Linked DNA regions of Homo sapiens. The protein of the gene in region 3 interacts with the protein of the main gene of each other region in a pairwise test. Each region holds a gene or a part of one and is shown on either strand. Other genes may lie near its edges.

Region 1 (3,650 bases), on a different chromosome or scaffold from region 3:
TGTGCCCCTCTGTGGGGACTTTCGCACTTGTGCTTCTTGAGTGGGATCCTCTGTATGTGGGTCTGTGTGTGTGGCTGTGGCCCTGAGTGTGTTCCTGATGTCCCCATTTGTGTGCCCCTCTGTGGGGACTTTCGCACGTGTGCTCCTTGAGTGGGATCCTCTGTGTGTGGGTCTGTGTGTGTGGCTGTGGCCCTGTGTTCCTGATGTCCCCACTTGTGTGCCCCTCTGTGGGGACTTTCGCATGTGTGCTCCTTGAGTGGGATCCTCTGTGTGTGGGTCTGTGTGTGTGGCTGTGGCCCTGTGTTCCTGATGTCCCCATTTGTGTGTCCCTCTGTGGGGGACTTTCGCACGTGTGCTCCTTGAGTAGGATCCTCTGTATGTGGGTCTGTGTGTGTGGCTGTGGCCCTGTGTTCCTGATGTCCCCATTTGTGTGTCCCTCTGTGGGGACTTTTGCACGTGTGCTCCTTGAGTGGGATCCTCTGTATGTGGGTCTGTGTGTGTGGCTGTGGCCTCGAGTGTGTTCCTGATGTCCCCATTTGTGTGCCCCTCTGTGGGGGCAGAGACAGGAGCCTGAGCTGCGGAAGAGGCTTTATTGATTAAACGGTTTGAGGATACATTTCCATGTGGGAGGTGGTAGTGGGCGTTGTGTCCACGGCTGCTTGTGTGGCAGGTCCTATGGCTGAGCCATGTCTGAGGTCCACTTAGGCACCGTCCTGACTGCCCAGCACTTGCACCTGGAAGGCAGACACATGTGGACTAAGAGGGCTGTGCTCAATAAGTGGAGAGCCACAGCTCCATCAGGCAAGCAAGGCCCTCAGTGGGGGGGGGGTCTGGCATATTGCTGCCTATCTCCTCCCAGCAGCTGGGAGGTGTGTGTGCACATGTGATGGTGTGCACACATGTATGTGTGTGCATATCCCAGTGTGAGCATGTGGGTGTGAACGTGTTTATACATGTGTGCACGCAGTGTACATTTCATGTCTGCACCTGTGTTTGGATCTCTGTGTATGTTCACATGTGTGCATGGAGGAGTATCCCACAGACTGGGGAGGAGGTCTATGGAGTCTGGGGGCTGCTCGGTGGACAGGAGGTCTGGGGTGTCCACCTGAGCTGGCTGATGCGGGTGCAATGTCTGTGGGTGGTGGATGTCTGTGGGTGGGGTAGGCTGTGTGGGTGCTGTGTTGGGTGGTCTTGGTAAGGCTGCAGATCTTTAGAAAATGGGGTGCCCGCCGCCCTCATACCAGCAGCTTGACCAGCTCCGCCTTGTGCATTGGCTGCAGGCCATCTCTGCAGGACTTGAGTTCAGTCATTGCTGCCTTGGCATCTTCGTTGACATTGTACTTGCCCAAGGTCCCCTCATAGAGCTCCTCTGGGGTCCCCACCAGTAGTGTTTGCAGGAAGTCCATGAAAAACTCATCGTTGTCCTCCCCCGTGGCCATCCCTGCATCACGAGCGAGATGATGCCAGGACAGGACAGGGTGACTCTGGTGCAACCACAGCCCTGGACCTGCCCCAGGGCTCTAACCTCCATGGTCTCCAGACCTTCCCCTTCAATGCTCACCTCTCCTCCCCAGGGCTTCCTCCACAACACCTCCAACTCCACCTTGCCCGAAGACCCCTCCACATCCCCCTTAATCTTAGCTGCTCCAATTTCCACTCAGCATTCCCTGGGATCACCAGGGAAGGAAAGTTAAGCTCCTGGTGTGGGGGAAATTTCCCCTGATGAGAGGCTATTATGACCAGAGGCTTGAAGGGTCAGGTCAGGCTGGACTGGGCTGGGGTAGGAGACACTGGGCTGGTGTTGGGTCAGCTGGGCTTTGTCCTTGGTTGGGGTGGAGTAGGGTGGGCGCGGGTTCTGCAGGGTCCTTGCCCACTTCTGTGACAGAAGCAGGTGGAGTGTTCACTGCAGAGGCCCGATGCCAGGATTTTACCTTCTCAGGTACCCCCCACTCCCCCCCGCCCCTGAATGTTCTGGAAACCCCAGTGGCACAGACTCACGGCAGATGCAGAACAGGGTGAGGGCCACCAGCAGGAGGGCACGGCTCCCCTTCATGCCGGCAGTCTCAGGAGCTGCCTCCAGCCAGAATCCCGGGATTTTATGCCTCACCGGACAGCACCTCTCCTAGAGGGCGGACCGGACCTGCCCATTAGGACCCGGCAGCCAGCTTAGATGAGGTTTGTTCACATCCCTGGCCCCCAGTGGGTGCCAAGCAGCAACAGGCATGGAGTGGCTGTGTGACAGGTGGTTGGCAAGCGGCTTTAGGGTGTGTGAGAGAGAGAACAGGTGTGTTAGGAGGGAACACTGGTGAGAGGCCATGCCAACTGATCGGTGAAGAAGGCAGTGGGTCCTGGCCACCAAGGGCCTCTAGTCATGCCTGCCCTTGAGGCCGAGAGTGGTGGGATCTGGGGTTGGTCCCACGCCTTTCTTTTAAGGTGGGAATCCCTCCTCTTATCAGTGTGCTGTGTGATCTGGGTCTGCATCTGGGGGTCTCCAATCAGGCAGGGGCCCCTTACTACTCAGATGGGGTGGCCGAGTAGGGGAAGGGGGTGCAGGCTGCACGAGTGGACACAGCTGTAGGACTACCTGGGGGCTGTGGATCTATGGGGTGGGGAGAAGCCCAGTGACAGTGCCTAGAAGAGAGAAGGTGGCCTGAGAGGGTCTGAGGAACATAGAGCTGGCCATGTTGGGGCCAGGTCTCAGCAGGAAGTGAGGAATGGGACAGGCTTGAGGTACATCTTCCATCAGTAGCCAGGATAGCAAGGAGAGGTTGAAGGCCCTGGGGGAGATGGTCCCAGGACATATTACAATGGACACAGGAGGTTGGGACACCTGGAGTCACCAAACAAAACCATGCCAAGAGAGACCATGAGTAGGGGTGTCCCAGTCCAGCCCTCTGACTGAGCTGCATTGTTCAAATCCAAAGGGCCCCTGCTGCCACCTAGTGGCTGATGGCATCCACATGACCCTGGGCCACACGCGTTTAGGGTCTCTGTGAAGACCAAGATCCTTGTTACATTGAACGACTCCTAAATGAGCAGAGATTTCCACCTATTCGAAACAATCACATAAAATCCCATCCTGGAAAAAGCCTGGGGGATGGCACTAAGGCTAGGGATAGGGTGGGATGAAGATTATAGTTACAGTAAGGGGTTTAGGGTTAGGGATCAATGTTGGTTAGGAGTCAGGGATACAGTAGGGTCACCGGTAAGGGTTAGGGGTTAGGGGTAGGGGTTAGGGTTAGGGTTAGGGTTAGGGTTAGGGTTAGGGGTTAGGGGTTAGGGTTAGGGTTAGGGTTAGGGTTAGGGTTAGGGGTTAGGGGTTAGGGTTAGGGTTAGGGTTAGGGTTGGTTAGGGGTTAGGGGTTAGGGTTAGGGTTAGGTTTTGGGGTGGCGTATTTTGGTCTTATATGCTGTGTTCCACTGGCAATGAAAAGAGTTCTTGTTTTTCCTTCAGCAATTTGTCATTTTTAAAAGAGTTTAGCAATTCTAACAGATATAGACCAGCTGTGCTATCTCATTGTGGTTTTCAATTGTAACCACATTGTGGTTTCAATGTGTTTACTTGCCATCTGTAGATCTTCTTTGGTGAGGTGTCTGTTCAGATGTGTGTGCATTTTTAGTTGGGCTGTTTAACTTATTGTTTAGTTTTAA
Region 2 (3,651 bases), on a different chromosome or scaffold from region 3:
AGCCTGTCTGCTGTAGCCGTCAGCGCCTGTGAAGGGGTGGTGTGTGCAGCTGGGTGGGGTGGCGGGGATAGGTTCTCAGTTCTGCTCCCCGGTCAGTGCTGGTCTTGGCTCTGGGCCACTGCCCCACCTGCACCTGGCCGCCTGGCTGTAAACACGGCTCGCAGATGCCAGCTTCTCTCAACCCCTCTCCGCAGGCCGCCTCCCTCTGTCAGGCTGCGGGAACTCCTCCGTGTAGCCTCCACGAGAGGCCACGTGCCCTCCTGCCTCTCCTCATGGCCGCTGGCCCTAGAGTAGACTCATTTCAGGAATGAGTGGGGTCTGGCCCGCAGCCCAGTCTGGCGGCTTCCAGTGCCCCTCAGAGGTTAGGCCACTTCTTCCAGGAGTGCTTTAGTGAGGGGGAGGGAGGGAGACGTACAGGCACCTGCAGAAATCTCAGCGGCCTCTGCTTCTCCCTCGCTCCAGCCCCCAGACAGAGGTGGGGCCTGGCTTAGCCCTGTGCCCCTCGGGGAGGTGCACGGAGCTGGGCGGCCTCAGGCCCCTCCTGCCCCGGGGCAGCCCTCACCTGGGCTACCTTGGAGGAGGCACCGTAGGGGAGACCACCTGCAACCTCTTCCCCGAAGGGCCCTGCGCTTCGTCACGGGCCCCTGAATGTGGGGACCTCTGTGCTAACGGGGCGTTTTCTGCGGTTTCCAGTGTTTCATGCCCTGCATCTCTGGAAAGCCCTGGTGGGAATCGAGGTTCTCCTGGAGGGCCCCTAATGGCGGGAGCTGTGAGGGGCTGTGCCGCCAGGTGCCTGTTCCCCAGTGGCTCCCAAAGCTGGTCTGTGGGAAGTGCGGCTGGACAGGCCCAGGGCACAGCGCACGGGCCTGGGGCATTCACGGTGTTCTCCTTCCGCCTGCAGGGAGTGAGGATTCTTTGGACACCAGCCTGAGAGCTCACGGGGTCCATGCCACTAAGCATGTGCCCGAGAAGCGGCCCCTGCCCATTCGGAGGAAGAGAAGCATCGGTGAGTCCAGGAGGCCGCGATGGGCAGGGCAGGGCCGGGTCAGGGTGAGTCCAGGAGGCCGCGATGGGCAGGGCAGGGCCGGGTGGGGAGGAGCTGCCCGCTCTCCCAGCGCAGTGGCCTCAGGCAAGCCACCCGTTCCCTCCTCCCTAAAATAGGCCTGGCCCTGGTGCCTCTGGCTCTGGCCTCTCCCGAGGCCTCCCTCCTTCGAGGGTGTCTCCTGCCCCAGCCCGCCTGCTCCTCCTGGAGTCCTGGTCTGGGCCAAGAGAGCTTCCAGGAGAGAAGAGCCATCATAAATTCCTTAAGCGCCCTGTCTTGTCGGGGCCTGTCCCCAGGAGCCTTGCCGGAAACGTGGTCGCGCCTAATTTCCAATTCGCAGTGTGGGCATCGTGCTCCTGCGCCGGCTGCTGAACTGGTGGGGACGCGCGTGCTGTGTCCGGCGGCTGCCCCCCGACACCCTCACCACACCCGTGTGCCCCGCCCCACTCACACCTGGCTCCAGGGCTCCACCCCCGCGTCCATTTGGGGGATATTTTGTCCCTTCTTACAGGACAGCCCCATGGCCCTCCAGCCCCCTGAGGAGGAACTAGCAGGTTTGGGGAGTTCAGGGGCCAGTCCCTGCTTTCTACCCAAGTCCCGCGTCCTCGGGGGTCCCACCTGATGGGTTTGAGCCCTGGTGCTGCTCATGGCTCTGGGGCCCTGAGCAGGTGGACCCCCCTCTCTGAGCTGTGGTTTCCTCCATGAAGATGGATTTTGTATCTTCCACCTTAAAGTGTCATGTGTGGCTGGCTAGTCCCAGCTGATGCAAGCAGGCCCTCCCCAGGTGACATTTGCTGTGGGGTCTGCATTTTGCACCCTTCAGACCACTTTTGAAGGCTAGAGCATGCAGCAAGTGCTGTAGGATTCACTGTTAAGGCCCCCTCCTCCCCCAGCCACTGGCCCCACCTGGACTAGGTTCCCCTCTGCCCCTGCCACCCCCAGTCTCTGGCCCCACCTGGACTAGGTTCCCCTCTCCCCACCCCCAGTCTCTGGCCCCACCTGGACTAAGTTCCCCTCTCCCCACCCCCAGCCACTGGCCCCACCTGGACTAAGTTCCCCTCCCCTCCGAGCCACTGGCCCCACCTGTCCAGGTCCCTCCAGCCTGCAGGCACCGGGCTGGGCTCCTCTGGATGTGTGGTGCTCCTGCCCACCCAGCCCCTAAGCCTCTGCTCCCAGCTCAGCCTCTGCTGCCTGGGAGGAATCCTGGCCTGTGGCTTACCCTGGTTGCCCCCCAGGCCCAGCTGGAGCCGCCTCAGCCCTGGGGTGGGGCCGTGGTCGCAGAGGCCGGTCCCCGCTCACTGTGCCCCCGCCGTTGCAGAGGAAGCTGTCCCCGCTGTCTGCAAGACCAGGACGGTCATTTACGAGATTCCTCGGAGTCAGGTCGACCCCACGTCCGCCAACTTCCTGATCTGGCCCCCGTGCGTGGAGGTGAAACGCTGCACCGGCTGCTGCAACACGAGCAGTGTCAAGTGCCAGCCCTCCCGCGTCCACCACCGCAGCGTCAAGGTGAGCCCTCCCCTCCCCTCCCCTCCCCTCCCCTCCCCTCCTCTCCTCTCCCCTCCCCTCCTCTCCTCTCCCCTCCCCTCCTCTCCCCTCCCCTCCCCTCCCCACCCAAGCCCGGGGCCGCCCCTACCAAGCAGCCAGGGTCCCTCCTGCATCCACCACCACAGCGTCAAGGTGAGCCCTGCCCCTCCCCTCCTCTCCCCTCCCCTCCCCTCCCCTCCCCACCCGAGCCCAAGGGCCGCCCCTACCTAGCAGCCAGGGTCCCTCCCGCGTCCACCACCGCAGCGTCAAGGTGAGCCCTGCCCCTCCCCTCCCCTCCCCACCCGAGCCCGGGGCCGCCCCTACCAAGCAGCCAGGGTCCCTCACGCATCCAACACTGCAGCATCCAGGTGAGCCCTGCCCCACGCAGGCCTGAGGGTCGCCCCTACTGGGTTGCCAGGGTCCCTCCTGGGAGGCCACAAGGTGCCCCTGGTGTGGCTGGTGGGGGTGCACGGCTGCGCTCCCATCTCCCTGGCAGGTACACTGAGGCCCAGGGAGGAGAAGGAGCACCTGGGGGTGCGGGAAAGGCAGGGCCGGCCGGGGCTTCTGCTCTGCTGCTCTGGCGACGAGCCTGGCCTCCTTTCCACGCCCTAGACCACAGTGCGGGGGCCGTTTTGGGCCTTGCGAGGTGTCGAGCTGCTTAGCCGGAAGCTGTCTGGCGTCCCCGGGCCCTGGAGGGTCCTGTGCGGGCTCTTCAGTGGGGGCCGAGGTGCATGGCAGGAGGAGTAGGGGGTGGATATTCAGAGCCTGCATTGCCTTTTGAAGTGCCTGACCTTTGGAGGGCCCCCCCGGCTTCCCCCCTAAAGCAGCCCAGGAGAAGGAGAAGGAGTGCTTGGGGTGGGCTCGAGGCCAGACAGCAGACTTCCTTCCATAGAATCCCAGGGTGAGCCCCTCTTTCTTTAAGTTGGGGGTGGTGCCTGCCTTCTTCAGGCTGCTTTAGCAGAATTCCATCCACTAGGAGCTGATTAGCAACAAATGTATTTCTCAAAGTTCTGGAGGCTGGAAGTCCAAGATCAGGGCGCCGGCAGACTGTGTCTCCGCTGGAGCCGTGTTTTCTGGGTTCATAG
Region 3 (3,651 bases):
ATGCTGTGGGAAGGACCCGATGAGAGATAATTTGAATCATGGGGGCAGCTTCCCCCATACTGTCCTCATCATAGTGAATAAGTATCATGAGATCTGATGGTTTCATCAGGGGTTCCCGCTTTTGCATCTTCCTTATTTTCTCTTGCCGCCACCAGGTAAGAAGTGCCTTTCAGCTGGATGCGGTGGCTCACGCCTGTAATCTCAGCACTTTGGGAGGCTGAGGACAGTGGATCACAAGGTCAGGGGTTCGAGGCCAGCCTGGCCAACATGGTGAAACCCCCATCTCCACTAAAAATACAAAAATTAGCCAGGCGTGGTAGCGCATGCCTGTAATCCCAGCTACTCAGGAGGCTGAGGCAGGAAATTGCTTGAACCTGGGAGGCAGAGGTTGCAGTGAGCTGAGATCATGCCACTGTGCTCCAGACTGAGTGACAGAGCAAGACTCCATCTCAAAAAAAAAAAAAAAAAAAAAGAAGTGCCTTTTGCCTCCCACCATGATTCTGAGTCCTCCCCAGCCATGTGGAACTGTAAGTGCAATTAAACTTCTTTTTCTTCTCAGTCTCAGGTATGTCTTTATCAGCTGCATGAAAACGGACTAATACACCTTGCCTCATCTCTTGCATTCAACACACACATGTTGATTGGCTCTTCTACAACTCCTCTGAAGGTTTTTAGAGTTCCATTGGAGTTCCATCAAGGGTAGCAAAAGACAGAAATCTATGGACTTAGGAGAAAATGACAGAATATGCATTCATTACCATGCAAAATCTAACTTGAGAAGAAAGGCAAAACCAAGGCGGGGAAATACGCTGACAAGAAAAATCAGTGAAACAGTCCACAGCTTCCACAGTTAGGCAGGCATTTTCTAGGTCTCAGTGTTGTCACCGGGATTAAGCAATGTCAGTGGGTACCACAAACGAGCCTATAATTTATGTAGAAGATGAGGGAGGAAGTGTACTCAAAATGAAAGGCAGTGCACCTATGTTCACAGCAGCACTATTCACAACAGCTAGAAGGTGAGAGCCACCCACGTATCTATCAGTGAATGAACAGACAAACAAAATGTGGTATACACATACAATGGAATATTAATTCAGCCTTAAAAAGGAAGGAAATTTTGACACATGCTACAACATGTATGAACTCAGAGGACATTATGTCAAGTAAAATAAGCCAGACACAAAAAGATAATTACTAGTTGATTCTACACATCTGAGGTCCTAGACTAGTAGTTAAATTCACAGAGAGAGAAAGGAGAAGAGTGGTTGCCAGTGGCCGGTGGGAGGACGGGAATGGGAGTTATTTAATGGGTATAGTTTCAGTTTTGCAAGTTAGAAAGAGTTTTGAGGATAGATCATGTTGATGGTTATACAATATGGATGTACTTAATGTCACTAAACTGCACACCTAAAAATGGATAATATGGTAAATTTTGTTATGTGTATTTTACTACAATTAAATAGAGAAAAAAGGGAAAGGCAAAGGAGAGCATGTGGTAGAGGAGAAAGAAAGAAGCAATACAGGAAGATGGAAATTTATGGTCTTTGAGGGGAATCCTCTTGACCTTGGCATTTATTACTTATGGGACCTAAGGTGAGCTACTTAGCATAATTGATTCTTTGTGTCTTCATCGGCATAATTGATGTGAGGATTAGCATATGATTGGCAATAGTAGATATTCAATTAATGACAGAAAAATGAAAATATAAAGAAAAATAGGGAAAAGATAAAAGACAGAGGTGAAATGTTGGGAAGTGGTATGTTATCAAAAATGACATATGCATCACTCTTTATGATGTTGTCTGCCTTCCTTTGAGACAACTAAAAACTTCCAAGGGAGATGAGATATAAAAACATCTTCAGAGCATCTGTGAAATGTAGTTTGTACAGCAATGACAAGTGATTTTCAAAGTTTTTTGGGTGGCAGAGAACCTGGAAACTACTTAAAACACTAGAAGTAATTAAAATAACTGAATAGAAAATTCTAGCCCACACAAAATGACATTTTTCACTAGATTATGATACGTATAACAAAGCCAAAGATCTAGAATTGTTTTCTGGGAAAAAGGCCTTAAGCATTCCATTCATTAAATTAAATTCCTGAGAACTGGGAAAAGTTATTAGCACCGGAACACGCTGGTCACTCATGGAACATCAGTGCATATAAAAGTAGAACTTAAGAACCACAGGCTTGCAGCTTTCCAGATACATTAAGTACAATACAGATCAGTGTAAACCATTAATTAACCAATTGTATAAATAAGAAATTTGGGGAGGTATACCAAAGGGTTGTTAATTGGCCTGTTTCAGGGTCATAAAACTCTATGGGGAAAGTGAGTGCTGTCGGACTTATTTGCCCTTCCACTTTCTTTCATACATTTCCCCAGAAAATAGCAAAGATAGTCAATAACATAATGTAGATTTTTTAATGTAGATTTCTTCTGAATTCTTAAAAAAATGGTGTCTTTCAATCAGTTATTAGAGATAGAATGACTAAAACTGTAGTCACGATTCACCTAAAAGGGGAAAATGAAGAACAATAAAACATCCTACAAGCCATGTCCAGACTTAAGTGACTCCAGGTTAAATTCGAGATGTATCACATGCTTGGGAAAGGATGTTTTTTTTCCACAACAAAGGGAGAGGAGCATAAAGATGTCAAATCGCTTCTGACTGAAAACCAAAGACTCTCATTAGAATGCAAAGAACTAGTTTTCAGGCCACTTGCTTTGTGAACAAAGCTCCATCAAATAAGATTAAGTTACACTCGAATTACGACATACAATCAGCCCTTTGGAGAAACAATCTTCAGAGCGGCCTGTGACAGAGGTCTGCCTGGAAGTACTGTTACAGCCTTGTCTAAGGACCCAGAGAAGCAGCATTGGGGGTGGGCACTGCTCTCCATCCCTGGAAGCTTGGCTCACTGTTGGAACTTCCTCCTTCCCTTCCTCTCTCTCTTTCTCTCCTCCCACCTAACCCTTTATTTTTTTCAAGACAGGATTTGCTCTGTCACCCAGGCTGGAGTGTGGTGGCACCATCACAGCTCAATGCAGCCTCCGCCTCCCAGGCTCAGGTGATCCTCCCACCTCAGTCTCCCGAGTACCTAGGACTACAGGTATGTGCCACCACATCCAGCTAATTTTTGGATTTTTTTGTAGAGATGGGGTTTCCCCATGTTGCCCAGGCTGCTCTCCAACTCCTGGGCTCAAACAATTCTCCTGCTTTGGCCTCTCAAAGAGTTGGGATTACAGGTGTGAGCCACTGTTCCTGGCCTTCTGTTAGAATTTCTTACCACTAAGAGAAGAAAGTCTCTCTCTGGGTTGTCAAAAGATATAAGAATATCTCGTCCTAAGATAAAACAGTATTCCATAATCTGTCAACTTCTCAAATTATTATAATTATAAATAATGATAATGATAAAATGGTGGCAGTGCATATTTAATAACTATAATTTGGTCACAGAATTACCATTGATATTAATAAGGCTAAGTAATGATACTAGGTGCTTATAGAGTCTTCTACCTACAAATTTTATAGATAATATCTTAGCTATCTTTGCTAAAATGTTCTGAGATAGGCAAAGGACATGACTGTGATTTTCACGCAAAGGAATCACATGGAAACAGGTTCAGATGTCTGCAGTGACACTGT

What was found.
Region 1: the proteins of ASPH (region 3) and SCGB1C2 interact in binary tests that used the Homo sapiens proteins (3 or more experiments, as listed by UniProt).
Region 2: the proteins of ASPH (region 3) and PDGFA interact in binary tests that used the Homo sapiens proteins (3 or more experiments, as listed by UniProt).

The regions. Positions count from the first base shown.
Region 1 is NC_000017.11:135,994-139,643, reverse strand, and holds SCGB1C2 (secretoglobin family 1C member 2 precursor), read right to left. Parts: upstream 2,076-3,650; 5' UTR 2,054-2,075; coding exon 1,999-2,053; intron 1,442-1,998; coding exon 1,242-1,441; intron 735-1,241; coding exon 702-734; 3' UTR 577-701; downstream 1-576.
Region 2 is NC_000007.14:509,706-513,356, reverse strand, and holds part of PDGFA (platelet-derived growth factor subunit A isoform 2 preproprotein), read left to right. Parts: intron 1-901; coding exon 902-1,006; intron 1,007-2,360; coding exon 2,361-2,548; intron 2,549-3,651.
Region 3 is NC_000008.11:61,505,043-61,508,693, forward strand, and holds part of ASPH (aspartyl/asparaginyl beta-hydroxylase), read right to left. Parts: intron 1-3,651.